3 linked regions of the Homo sapiens genome follow. The protein of the gene in region 1 purifies or fractionates together with the protein of each later gene. This does not show direct contact. Each region holds a gene or a part of one and is shown in the gene's direction. Other genes may lie near its edges.

What was found.
Region 2: the proteins of CLCN4 (region 1) and MCOLN1 fractionate together in Homo sapiens (co-fractionation; one large-scale study listed by BioGRID). This does not show direct contact.
Region 3: the proteins of CLCN4 (region 1) and LYSMD4 fractionate together in Homo sapiens (co-fractionation; one large-scale study listed by BioGRID). This does not show direct contact.

Annotation. Positions count from the first base shown.
Region 1 is NC_000023.11:10,229,939-10,233,588, forward strand, and holds part of CLCN4 (H(+)/Cl(-) exchange transporter 4), read left to right. Parts: intron 1-3,555; coding exon 3,556-3,646; 3' UTR 3,647-3,650. UniProt on the Homo sapiens protein: Strongly outwardly rectifying, electrogenic H(+)/Cl(-)exchanger which mediates the exchange of chloride ions against protons.
Region 2 is NC_000019.10:7,525,610-7,529,259, forward strand, and holds part of MCOLN1 (mucolipin-1), read left to right. Parts: intron 1-829; coding exon 830-997; intron 998-1,151; coding exon 1,152-1,317; intron 1,318-1,910; coding exon 1,911-2,019; intron 2,020-2,254; coding exon 2,255-2,351; intron 2,352-2,548; coding exon 2,549-2,648; intron 2,649-2,987; coding exon 2,988-3,094; intron 3,095-3,211; coding exon 3,212-3,361; intron 3,362-3,491; coding exon 3,492-3,593; intron 3,594-3,650. UniProt on the Homo sapiens protein: Nonselective cation channel probably playing a role in the regulation of membrane trafficking events and of metal homeostasis. Acts as a Ca(2+)-permeable cation channel with inwardly rectifying activity.
Region 3 is NC_000015.10:99,726,761-99,730,443, reverse strand, and holds the end of LYSMD4 (lysM and putative peptidoglycan-binding domain-containing protein 4), read left to right. Parts: intron 1-712; coding exon 713-1,321; 3' UTR 1,322-3,039; downstream 3,040-3,683.

The DNA of each region.
Region 1 (3,650 bases):
GCATAATAATCACATCATAGAGAATGGGGCATCCACCCCCTCAAGCATTTACCCTTTGTGTTACAAACTATCCAGCTGTACTCTTTTCATACACCTGTTTGCTATTTGTATGTCTTCTTTTGAGAAATGTCTATCCAAATATTTTGCCCGTTTTTTTGATCAGATTATTAGATTTTTCCCTATAGAGTTGTTTGAGCTCCTTATATATTCTGCTTATTAATCCCTTGTCAGATGGGTAGTTTGCTAGTGTTTTCTCCCATTCTGTGGGTTGTCTCTTCACTTTGTTGATTGGGAAACCTTTATTTCTTATGTGGGCCTCTGGCTCTGACATGCCTCAAGTCTGGAGGCCTGGACTGCTCTTCTCAGCAGCAATACATGGCTGCCAAAGCAAAAGGGCAACTCTAATGAGACCGGGGCCCACTAAAGCTTTTGCAACCGTAGAAGCAGGGTGATTTGGCGAAGTATTGGGTAACAGTGCCCTTGAGAAAATGTGTATCTCTGGTTGATTGATTGCAATGGGCCCTCATTATGACAGTTGAGCCCGAAGCAGCTAAAACAAATCAGGATGGAAAGAAATGGTTTCAGGCTCTGCCAGCTGGACCCAGCAACCTTCCTGTGTGAGGAGACCAGAGCCCTTGTTGGGCCTTGAATCTGTCAACTGTGTTCATACTCACAGATGGGTTTTCCCAGGAGAACTCAGCATCTCACCGCAAAGAAGAGTGCTAACATTTGTTTCCTTTAGGTAGCTCTTGTTTCAGGATTATAACAACATTTAGGCTTACAGAACAATTGAGCAAAATATGCAGAGTTCTCATATATCCCCTTCACTCCCCTCAGTTTCCCCTATTGTCAATATCTTGCATTACTGTTGTATTTGTTGTAATTGATGAACCAATATCAATACATTATTATTAACTAACATCCATAGTTTACTTTAGAGTGTACTCTGTGTCATATATTTCTGTGGATTTTGACAAATATATAATATCATGTGTCCACCATTACAGGATGATACAGAGTAGTTTCACTGCCCTAAAAATCCCCTGTGCTCTGCCTATTTATCCCTCTCTTCCACCCACCAAACCCTGACAACCACTGATCTTTTTACTGTCTCCATAGTTTAGCCTTTTCCAGAATGTTGCATATTATGTAGTTGGAATCATTCAGTATGTAGCCTTTTCAGACTGGCTTCTTTCACTCAGCAATACACATTTTGATTTTTCTCCACGTCTTTTCATGACTTGATAGCACTTTTGTTTTTATTGCTGAAGAATATCCATTGTCTGGATATGCCATGGTTCAGTTTATCCAGTCACCTACTAAAGAAAATGTTGGTTGCTTCCAGGTTTTGGCAATTATGAATGAAGCAGACGTCTTCTAAGACGTTTTCTTTACATAACTACCAAACCATGATGATGTAAAATTAACAGTAACTCAATATATCATCCAATATCCAGTTGATATTCATTCAAATATCAACTCAGAATTCCATCAAGGTTTGTGCATTGCATTCTTTTGCCTTTTTAGTCTCTTGTCTAGAACAGTTTCCTGCCTTGTTGTTGTTTTTTTAATGAGAGATTTTTAAACATAATTCCAAATTTTATTTTAGACACAGGAGATACATGTGCAGGTTTGTTACTTGCAAAGATTTCCTTTGAAGAGTCCAGACCAGTAGTCTCACATTCTGGGTCTGATTACTTCCTCATGATTCAGTTTGGCATAAGTCGTTTTTGGCAGCATTCCAACATAGGTAACGCTATGGAGTCTGCTTTTCTGACTTTGTTGATGATAAGCTCCATTGCTCGGATGAGGTGGTGATGGCCAGAACCCTCCATTGTAAAGTGACATTTTTCTCTTTGTTCATAATCTGTAGGAAAGTACTTTGAGACCATGTGAATTTTCTGTTTTCCAGCAACCATTCGCCCAGTGATTTTGGTATCCATTGACAATTATTGCCTAAGCTAACTATTACATTGGGGGTTGCAAAGTATTAATTATCAAATTCTGTCCTGCTTCCTACGTTTATCAAGTATTCCTCCCCATTTAAGAAAAACAATCCCTGTAGGGTCATGATATATTCTTTTAATGTTTTTGTAATTCATATTGTCATTATTCTGTTTGCTTAGCATGCTCTTTCACTATTTTCCTCTCTCCTAAAGATGTTGCCATGAGATGGAGGGGAAGGGGTCTTATTTGCTGTCTCTCTCAGTGTGATACATAGGGAAACCAACACAAGAAACGGATACCTTTTCCAAGACTGTTTAAGGTCCAGTGTTGTCAGAGCCAAAAAAGTCAGAATTCTGGCCTGACAGTTTGAATAATCAGTGTCTATTTCACCAGGTGTAACTGATTTGAATACTGCTTAGAATACTTACATCCCTTCTTCATATTCACTAAGAGATAAATTTGACTAATTTTGCCTTAATTAAATAAATGACAGTATATTACAGTTAGGTTTTCTGATTTCTTTTGTATATTATCATATTACACAGAGTAGAAACCCATTATTTTAATAGCTATAAAGTATTTTAATGCAAGACTACCAGAGTTTGCTTCTGCATACCCCTTTTTTGGGGGGTACAGTGGAGATACAGTGAGTAGTGTTTTGCAAACTTATGTGGGAATGGAGCTTCTTTTTTTCCAAAGAAGTTGTTCACTTCTCCTTCTCTCAGACCTTTCATTTTACCCAAGGGACATGATGTGTTCCTGCAGGTGGTCATTTAGTAAAATAATGAAACAAGGCTTGCTATGAATGGTTGTGCAAATGTGCACTGTATAATCCAGAGGGCACAATTTCTACTGCAGTGTTTGTGAGCAGTGCTCCTTGGCACTGTGTGATATACAGTCTTGGTGGTCCCATACAATGGACTCTGGGAAGTGGCATTCTTTTTGTAAGTTGAAAGCAATGGAATTTTGGAAGAGAAGGCAATTTACGTATATAGTCAGAGATAAATGTCAACTTTATCCTCCCAGTAAGAATTACAAATAGAATCACTTTTTATCTTGTACTTAAAATTTCTTATACTTAAAATACCTTACACTTGGCATTCCTGTGGTGTGGTCAAGTTTTGACAATGCCTTTCATAAACCCTTTTAAAATTGATTATAGTCTTGAAATTTAAGAGGATATAGTAGTCATCATAGGTTTACTGCCGTAATAAACAAGCTTGCAATCTCTGTGGCCTAATGCAATAAAGGTTTATTTTTCTCACATGTTACATCCACTGTGGATTGCAGGTGGGCTCTGGACCTAGGTGTTTGAATCTGGTGGCTCCTAAGTCAATCCTCAGAGCCCTTCACTGGCTCCTGTGCCTCTGGCTGCCAGATGAGAAGAGAGAGTGGGGGGAAATGCACAGGAGACCTGGGAGCAGCATCTGTCACTTCCACCCACAGGCATTGGCCAGTGCTCCCTCCATTGGCTCTGCCTAACCACAAGGGAGGCTGGGAAATGTTGTCTGTCTCTGTGTCCACATGGAAAAGGCACTGGGGTTTAGGGAGAGGGATGAGTCGTCGTTTCAAGGCTGACCTCTTTTCTCTATTTTGTTTCTTCTCCAGGAGACTTCTTGGCATCATCACAAAAAAGGATGTTCTGAGACATATGGCCCAGATGGCAAACCAGGACCCCGAATCCATCATGTTTAATTAGCAAC
Region 2 (3,650 bases), on another chromosome or scaffold:
CCAATGGCTGCACAGATAGTTCTCCCTCCCCCATGCCAGACCCTGTGCTGGGCTCTGGGAACCCCAAGATGAATCAGACCCAGCCACTGCCCTAAGTGCTTACTTCATGTTTTGGGCTGACTTTAGCATGTCACCATGCCTCTAATTTTCCCTCTGAAAAGGGACCCAATTGTCCAGGCATGGTGGCTCATGCCTGTAATGCCAGCACTTTGGGAGGCTGAGTTGGGTGGATCATTTGAGGCCAGGAGTTTGAGACCAGCCTGGCCAACATTGCAAAACCCCGTCTCTACTAAAAATACAAAAATTAGCTGGGTTTGGTGGCAGGTACCTGTAACTCAGCTACTCAGGAGGCTGAGACAGGAGAATTGCTTGAACCCAGGGGGTGGAGGTTGTAGTGAGCTGAGATCATACCATGGCACTCCAACTTGGGCAACAGAGTGAGACTCTGTCTCAAAAAAGAAAAGAAAAGGGACCCAGTCATGGTACTTACCCTGAAAGTTTGGGTTTAACACAGAATCGGACATCCAGTAAACATTTAATGAACGTTAGTCCCTGCAGTGAGATAGATGAGTCCCCACCCTGTGTTGTACGGGGGAGGACACAGTGGTGGGCGTGGCATGGAGCTTATGCCAGGAGGTGGGGTGAAATTAATCAAAGCAAAGAAATGCACAAGTGAAATCCGTGTTTGTGGCCCAAGTTAGCAGGGCCCTGCCCCACCCCAGTGGACATCTGCAGGGCCCTCCCTGTCCTCTTCCAGGGCCTGTGCCCTGAGGGAGATACACCCCAACCCCCATCCTAGCCATGCCAACCTCTACTACCCTCTCCCCAGCTCATCCTGTTTGGGCTCAGTAATCAGCTGGCTGTGACATTCCGGGAAGAGAACACCATCGCCTTCCGACACCTCTTCCTGCTGGGCTACTCGGACGGAGCGGATGACACCTTCGCAGCCTACACGCGGGAGCAGCTGTACCAGGCCATCTTCCATGCTGTGGACCAGGTGCTGGTGGGCGGGCAGGTGCTGGTGGGCAGGCAGGTGCAGGTGGGCGGGCAGGTGCAGTTGGGCGGGCAGGTGCTGGTGGGCGGGCAGGTGCAGGTGGGTGGGCTGCAGAGAGCGGGCCGGACTCACAGGCCCTCCCCTTCTCTGCCCACAGTACCTGGCGTTGCCTGACGTGTCACTGGGCCGGTATGCGTATGTCCGTGGTGGGGGTGACCCTTGGACCAATGGCTCAGGGCTTGCTCTCTGCCAGCGGTACTACCACCGAGGCCACGTGGACCCGGCCAACGACACATTTGACATTGATCCGATGGTGGTTACTGGTGAGTGGGCAGGACGAGGCTTCACTGTTGGGAGCCTGAGCTGCTGGGATTAAAATCAACAGCTGTGGCTGGGCACGGTGGCTCACGCCTATAATACCAGCACTTTGGGAGGCTGAGGAGGAAGGATTGCTTGAGGCCAGAAGTTTGAGACCAGCCTGGGCCACGTAGGAAGACCTTGTCTCTACGCACAAACAAATTAGCTGGGCGTGGTGGCGTGCCCCTGTGGTCCCAGCTACTCAGGAGGCTGAGGCAGGAGGATCGCTTGAGTCCGGGAGGTTGAGGCTGCAGTAAGCTATGACCACGCTGCTGCACTCCACCCTGGGTGACAGAGTGAGACCCTGTCTCAAAAAAAAAAAAAAAAAAAAAAAACAAGTATGCTTAGTGTGAGTGTGACTCTTGCCACGTAGAAAGCACCAGATGTTATATTTTAATATGGCTCATTCAGTAAAACATCCGCAGGCCCAGAGAGTGCCAGGCCTGTAGGAATGACCCAACCCTGGGGAAGCACAGGGAAGAAGGCCACTGGGGACTCTGGGGAGACCAGCCTGGCCTCCCCGGCCCCCTGAGGCCCTTCCCTGACTCCCTGTCCTTAGACTGCATCCAGGTGGATCCCCCCGAGCGGCCCCCTCCGCCCCCCAGCGACGATCTCACCCTCTTGGAAAGCAGCTCCAGTTACAAGAACCTCACGCTCAAATTCCACAAGTACTGCCTGCTCACTCGAGGGGGGCCCAGGGTGGGGGAGGCAGCACACTAGGCACTCTCACCCCAGCAACTACTTCCCTAAGGTGGGGACAGGGCCCCCCCGCCCGCGCTGGTGCCTGCTGGGTGAGCACTTCCCCTGCCAGCTGCAGAGTCAGCACGTGGCAGGGGACGCTGGCACTTGGGGCCGGAAGGGACCCGAAGACGCCCCTGACCCTCACCCGAGCCTCCTGCCTAGGCTGGTCAATGTCACCATCCACTTCCGGCTGAAGACCATTAACCTCCAGAGCCTCATCAATAATGAGATCCCGGACTGCTATACCTTCAGCGTCCTGGTGAGGCCCCCCGGGAACCCACAGGGCTCCTGAGTTCCAGGGCAGGGACCTGGTCAGGGAGTGTCTTGGGAGCACTGGCCAAGGGCAAGCGTGCGGGTGATGAGGGAGGGAGCCCGGGGTCTGTCAGGCCACCTGTCATGTGGACCTTGGGGCTTGGGGCTGCCAAGGTTTACTCTGCCCCCAACTGGCCCCCACAGATCACGTTTGACAACAAAGCACACAGTGGGCGGATCCCCATCAGCCTGGAGACCCAGGCCCACATCCAGGAGTGTAAGCACCCCAGTGTCTTCCAGCACGGTGAGCCCCTGAGCCCCAGACCAGCACTGACCAGGGGCCCTGGCCTGTCCTGGGATTCCCCAAGCCCCAGATCAGCGCTGCCTGGGGGCCGTGACCTCCCCAGGAATCCGCTGAGCCTCAGATCAGCACAGACCAGGGACCCCGTCCTGTGCTGAGATCCCCCAAGCCCCAGACCAGCACTGACCGGGGTTCTTGACTCACCCCAAGCAAGCCCTGAGCCCACTGACCAACCAAAACCAGCCGTGCAGCCCCCTAGGTCTCCAGCCTGGCCTGGCACCAATGCTAGCCTCCCAAGGCTCCATGCCATCCTTGGCCCTACCCGCTCTGCCCTCCCCGCAGGAGACAACAGCTTCCGGCTCCTGTTTGACGTGGTGGTCATCCTCACCTGCTCCCTGTCCTTCCTCCTCTGCGCCCGCTCACTCCTTCGAGGCTTCCTGCTGCAGAACGTGAGGCTTCTGCGTCATGTGTGCTGGTGTCCTCCCCGCCTGGCCCTGGGGCGATAAAAGCCAGGGCTTTGAGGGTCCTGTGCCTGGTCAGGCCCTCACCCCGCCTGCCTTCTGCAGGAGTTTGTGGGGTTCATGTGGCGGCAGCGGGGACGGGTCATCAGCCTGTGGGAGCGGCTGGAATTTGTCAATGGCTGGTACATCCTGCTCGTCACCAGCGATGTGCTCACCATCTCGGGCACCATCATGAAGATCGGCATCGAGGCCAAGGTGCGTCCTGCCAACACCCTGGGCCCCAGGTCCCATCCCTGCTGTCAGTGCCTATCCGGGGCCATATCCTCCCCCAGGCCCCCCAAAGGAAGGGCTGGGCCAGATAGGTTGACGCAGCTCCCACCCGCAGAACTTGGCGAGCTACGACGTCTGCAGCATCCTCCTGGGCACCTCGACGCTGCTGGTGTGGGTGGGCGTGATCCGCTACCTGACCTTCTTCCACAACTACAATGTGAGTTTTGCACATGCAGCTGGGCCTTCCACATGGTTACTCCACACCCTCCAAATA
Region 3 (3,683 bases), on another chromosome or scaffold:
ACTTACATTCTCCCTGCTTCTTAAATCTTCGTGTTTGATTATGAGAGGAGTTTGTCATGAACTTTGTTACTTGATAAAACTCACAGCATTATTCCTTTTTCCTGACAGTTAAGTACAGTAACTGTAAGTCACTTTTATTTAATAAGTTTACATGCCCCACAGTGTTTCTGGGAAAGAAAATGCCGAGGGCATATCTGTCAACTTTATTACAGGTAAACTGGATTTTGAGTGTGTCTGCAGAGCTGGCTGAGGCTGTGTGTTTGGTGAATGCTAACATCTGGCAGCCACTGAGTTCTGGCATGAGGGGGAAGGCAGGCAGATGGGGGCACTATTGCCTCAAAAGTGAAAGGTGGAAAAGGCTGCAACATTCCTTTCAGTGCCATGGTGGTTTCGCCCAAAGCGATTTGTTGCAGTCACACTTTAAACAGTTTAAGAAAGATCTGTTTTTCAAAACTGATCTTAAATTGTTCAAACCTGTAAATCTTTAGGAATATCTGATTACTAAACTATATATTGAGGTTGAGTGAAAGCCAAAAAAACAAAATTTCAGCCTAAACTAACTTTGTGTACAGCTGCAGTTTTCCAGTCTTCATCAGATTCGTCAGTGAAGTGGGCTTGAATCATCACCCAGAAAGATTAAGAGCCACTTTTTGGAAAGTTATTTTTAAGGAGCTCCGCATATTTTATGATGTTTATCTTCGTGCCTTCCTAGGTTGCAGATATCAAGAAAGTCAACAACTTCATCAGAGAACAAGACTTATATGCTTTGAAATCTGTTAAGATTCCAGTGAGAAACCATGGGATCCTGATGGAGACCCACAAAGAACTGAAACCCCTTCTGAGCCCGTCTTCCGAGACCACAGTGACCGTGGAACTGCCAGAGGCAGACAGAGCAGGCGCGGGCACCGGTGCCCAGGCCGGCCAACTGATGGGCTTCTTTAAGGGGATTGACCAGGATATTGAGCGTGCAGTGCAGTCAGAAATCTTTCTACATGAAAGTTACTGCATGGACACCTCCCATCAGCCACTGCTCCCGGCACCTCCGAAGACGCCTATGGATGGTGCAGATTGTGGCATTCAGTGGTGGAATGCTGTTTTCATCATGCTGCTGATTGGTATTGTCTTGCCTGTCTTTTATTTGGTCTACTTTAAAATACAAGCTAGTGGTGAGACCCCTAATAGCTTGAACACAACTGTCATCCCCAATGGCTCGATGGCAATGGGTACAGTTCCAGGGCAAGCCCCCAGACTAGCAGTTGCAGTGCCAGCCGTCACTTCTGCAGACAGCCAGTTCAGTCAGACCACCCAAGCGGGGAGCTAAGCTTTGTTTTTAAAGACTAGGCCCAGCTTTAGCAATTGGCTGTTGATGTGCCTCAGCTGTCACTGGCGATGTCCTAGGGGTGCTGCATTTTGCTTCCGGGGAAGGATGGACACTTTTCAGAAGTCACTGCAGTATTCCCAATTGCACTGGCCCTGGGCATGGCCTTACCCAGTCTAAGCTGGCAGGATCTAAAACAGCAGCGACCTCGGCCCCTATCCAGAGAGGTGCAGCAAGAGAGCCATTTCCCTGTGACATTTAGTGGACTGGCCAGTTCATAGCAGCACTGTGAGGACCCCCAAGTTGGACGTGCTCGGAGGGAAAGATTTATGGCCTCTGTCGAGGGACCTGCAGCGTGAGAGCCAGTGGCATCTGCGCGGCTTGCCTGGCTCTTGCTGTATCCTCACTTCCTGTGGAGCGGGGATTGGCTCTGAGAAGGAGTGTTCTCTGTCTGCCTGGCAAAGGTGCTGTGGAATAGGCTTGGCATGCCACCCTGTTTTAGAGAGTGACAGTTACAGTTGTAACAAGCCTACTTCATATTGGCCCCCTCAGTTAGCCTTTTTGAGGCAATGCCATTTCTAGAGTTGAAAAAGCCCTGGACCCAAACTGCGGCACTGTTGAATAAAGGGCAGTCCTACTCCTGTCCTTTTAGAGTGGCTTAGTGTGACACACAGGCATCTCCCAGGCCAAGCACACACAGGCTGCGCCCAGTTCCGCAGGAGCCGTCCCACAGCGTGGCTCTCTGGATTCTCCCACTTGTCCTCCTTGGAAGGAGCTCTTGCTGGCCAGTGTTTGGAGGGGAGGATGAGTGCCTGTCACTGAGGCCTCACTATGGTTGGCGTCTGAAGCTGGGCGGTCGTCAGGCCTGTGCTGAGAGCCGCAGCCCCTGTGCACACCTAACACAGGGCGCTCCCCCTGCTGCTTCCCTGGCTCAGTTCTTCGGAGCTCCAGAGTGAGAAGGCCGCTTCGTCCTTTTTCTCTGGGTGATGCCCTTAGAATAACACTATATGCAATGTAACTCACAATGTTCCAGGACCAAAGACTTGATGGAGGGGCTAGAGGCGACCCTTGTTGTAAAAGGCGATCAGAACACCTGAGGGAGGAAGGGGCTTGCAGTTTTCCCAGCCCTTCTCGCTGCCAAGGCAGCAGTGGTGCTGTGGATGGGCTGGGGACTGCGGGACAGAGCCTGCTACTACTTGGGAGTTGGTGCTGCCCTGTGGCATGGAGGGGTGGGAGGGGCTGAGATGGCTGCTGGCCCGGCCTCCAAGAGTTCTGGACAGGAGGCAGACACTGCCCAGATGCTCGGTGGAGGGACAGTGATGGCCTTTGACTCATGAGGCCTGGAGAAAAGTATCAAAGGTCTCACCATGTAAGAGTGATTTCCGATTTCTCTCCTTTCAGTTGTGTGAAAAAACAGCTGGCCTGGGTTCCATTAGCAAATTAAATCATCTTCAATCTTAAATTAGAAACCAGAATGATCTTCAGGATAAAAAGAACTTCTGAATCTCTGCAATAGGAAATGTTTCGATCATGCAAGTGCTTTCCCAGCCAAATGTCTGTGCTCTCTGTGTCACTGAGGGCCACAGGTTCCTCTAACATCTGTCACTGTCACTTCACCAGGCAGGCCTTGGAGTTCCATGACAAAATCACTTTTGTCAGACAAAGAATGTATCCTTTACTTTTCTCAAATGGAATAAAATTATTTCTTCTGTGGAGGAAAATTGATTCCCCCTTTTTATTTAATTTTTTTTTGGAGACAGTCTCACTCCTTCCCCCAGGCTGGAGTGCAGTGGTGCGATCTGGGCTCACTGCAACCTCCACCTCCCGGGTTCAAGCGATTCTCCTGCCTCAGCCTCCTGAGTAGCTGGGATTGCTATCACACATCACCATGCCTGGCTGATTTTTGCATTTTTAGTAGAGATGGGGTTTAGCCATGTTGGCCAGGCTGATTTCGAACTCCTGACCTCAGATAATCTGCCCACCTCAGCCTCCCTAAGTGCTAGGATTACAGACGTGAGCCACTGCACCTGCCTCAACCTTTTAAAATTTGGGGATTGATAATTTAGCGTTAAAAGATGTGGGATGCTGCTGGAGAAGATGGAGGTGTCTGTCAGGAGTGAGGACTGTGCCTGTTCCCTGCACCTGGCCACCAACTTGGGGCTTGTACTGTGCCCGAGGTTACTCAGACAGGTGCAGGACAAAGTGGTGACCAGTGCTCTAGGGATGATTGATCACTGATTGATCTGTATACAGGCTTTAATATTGCTTTATTAGGTGTATATAAGAAATAACCACGATACTTCCTATTCCACATTTTGCTATGTTTTCAGTGTCTTTGGGGAGGGAATATTTTAGAGAAATAGGT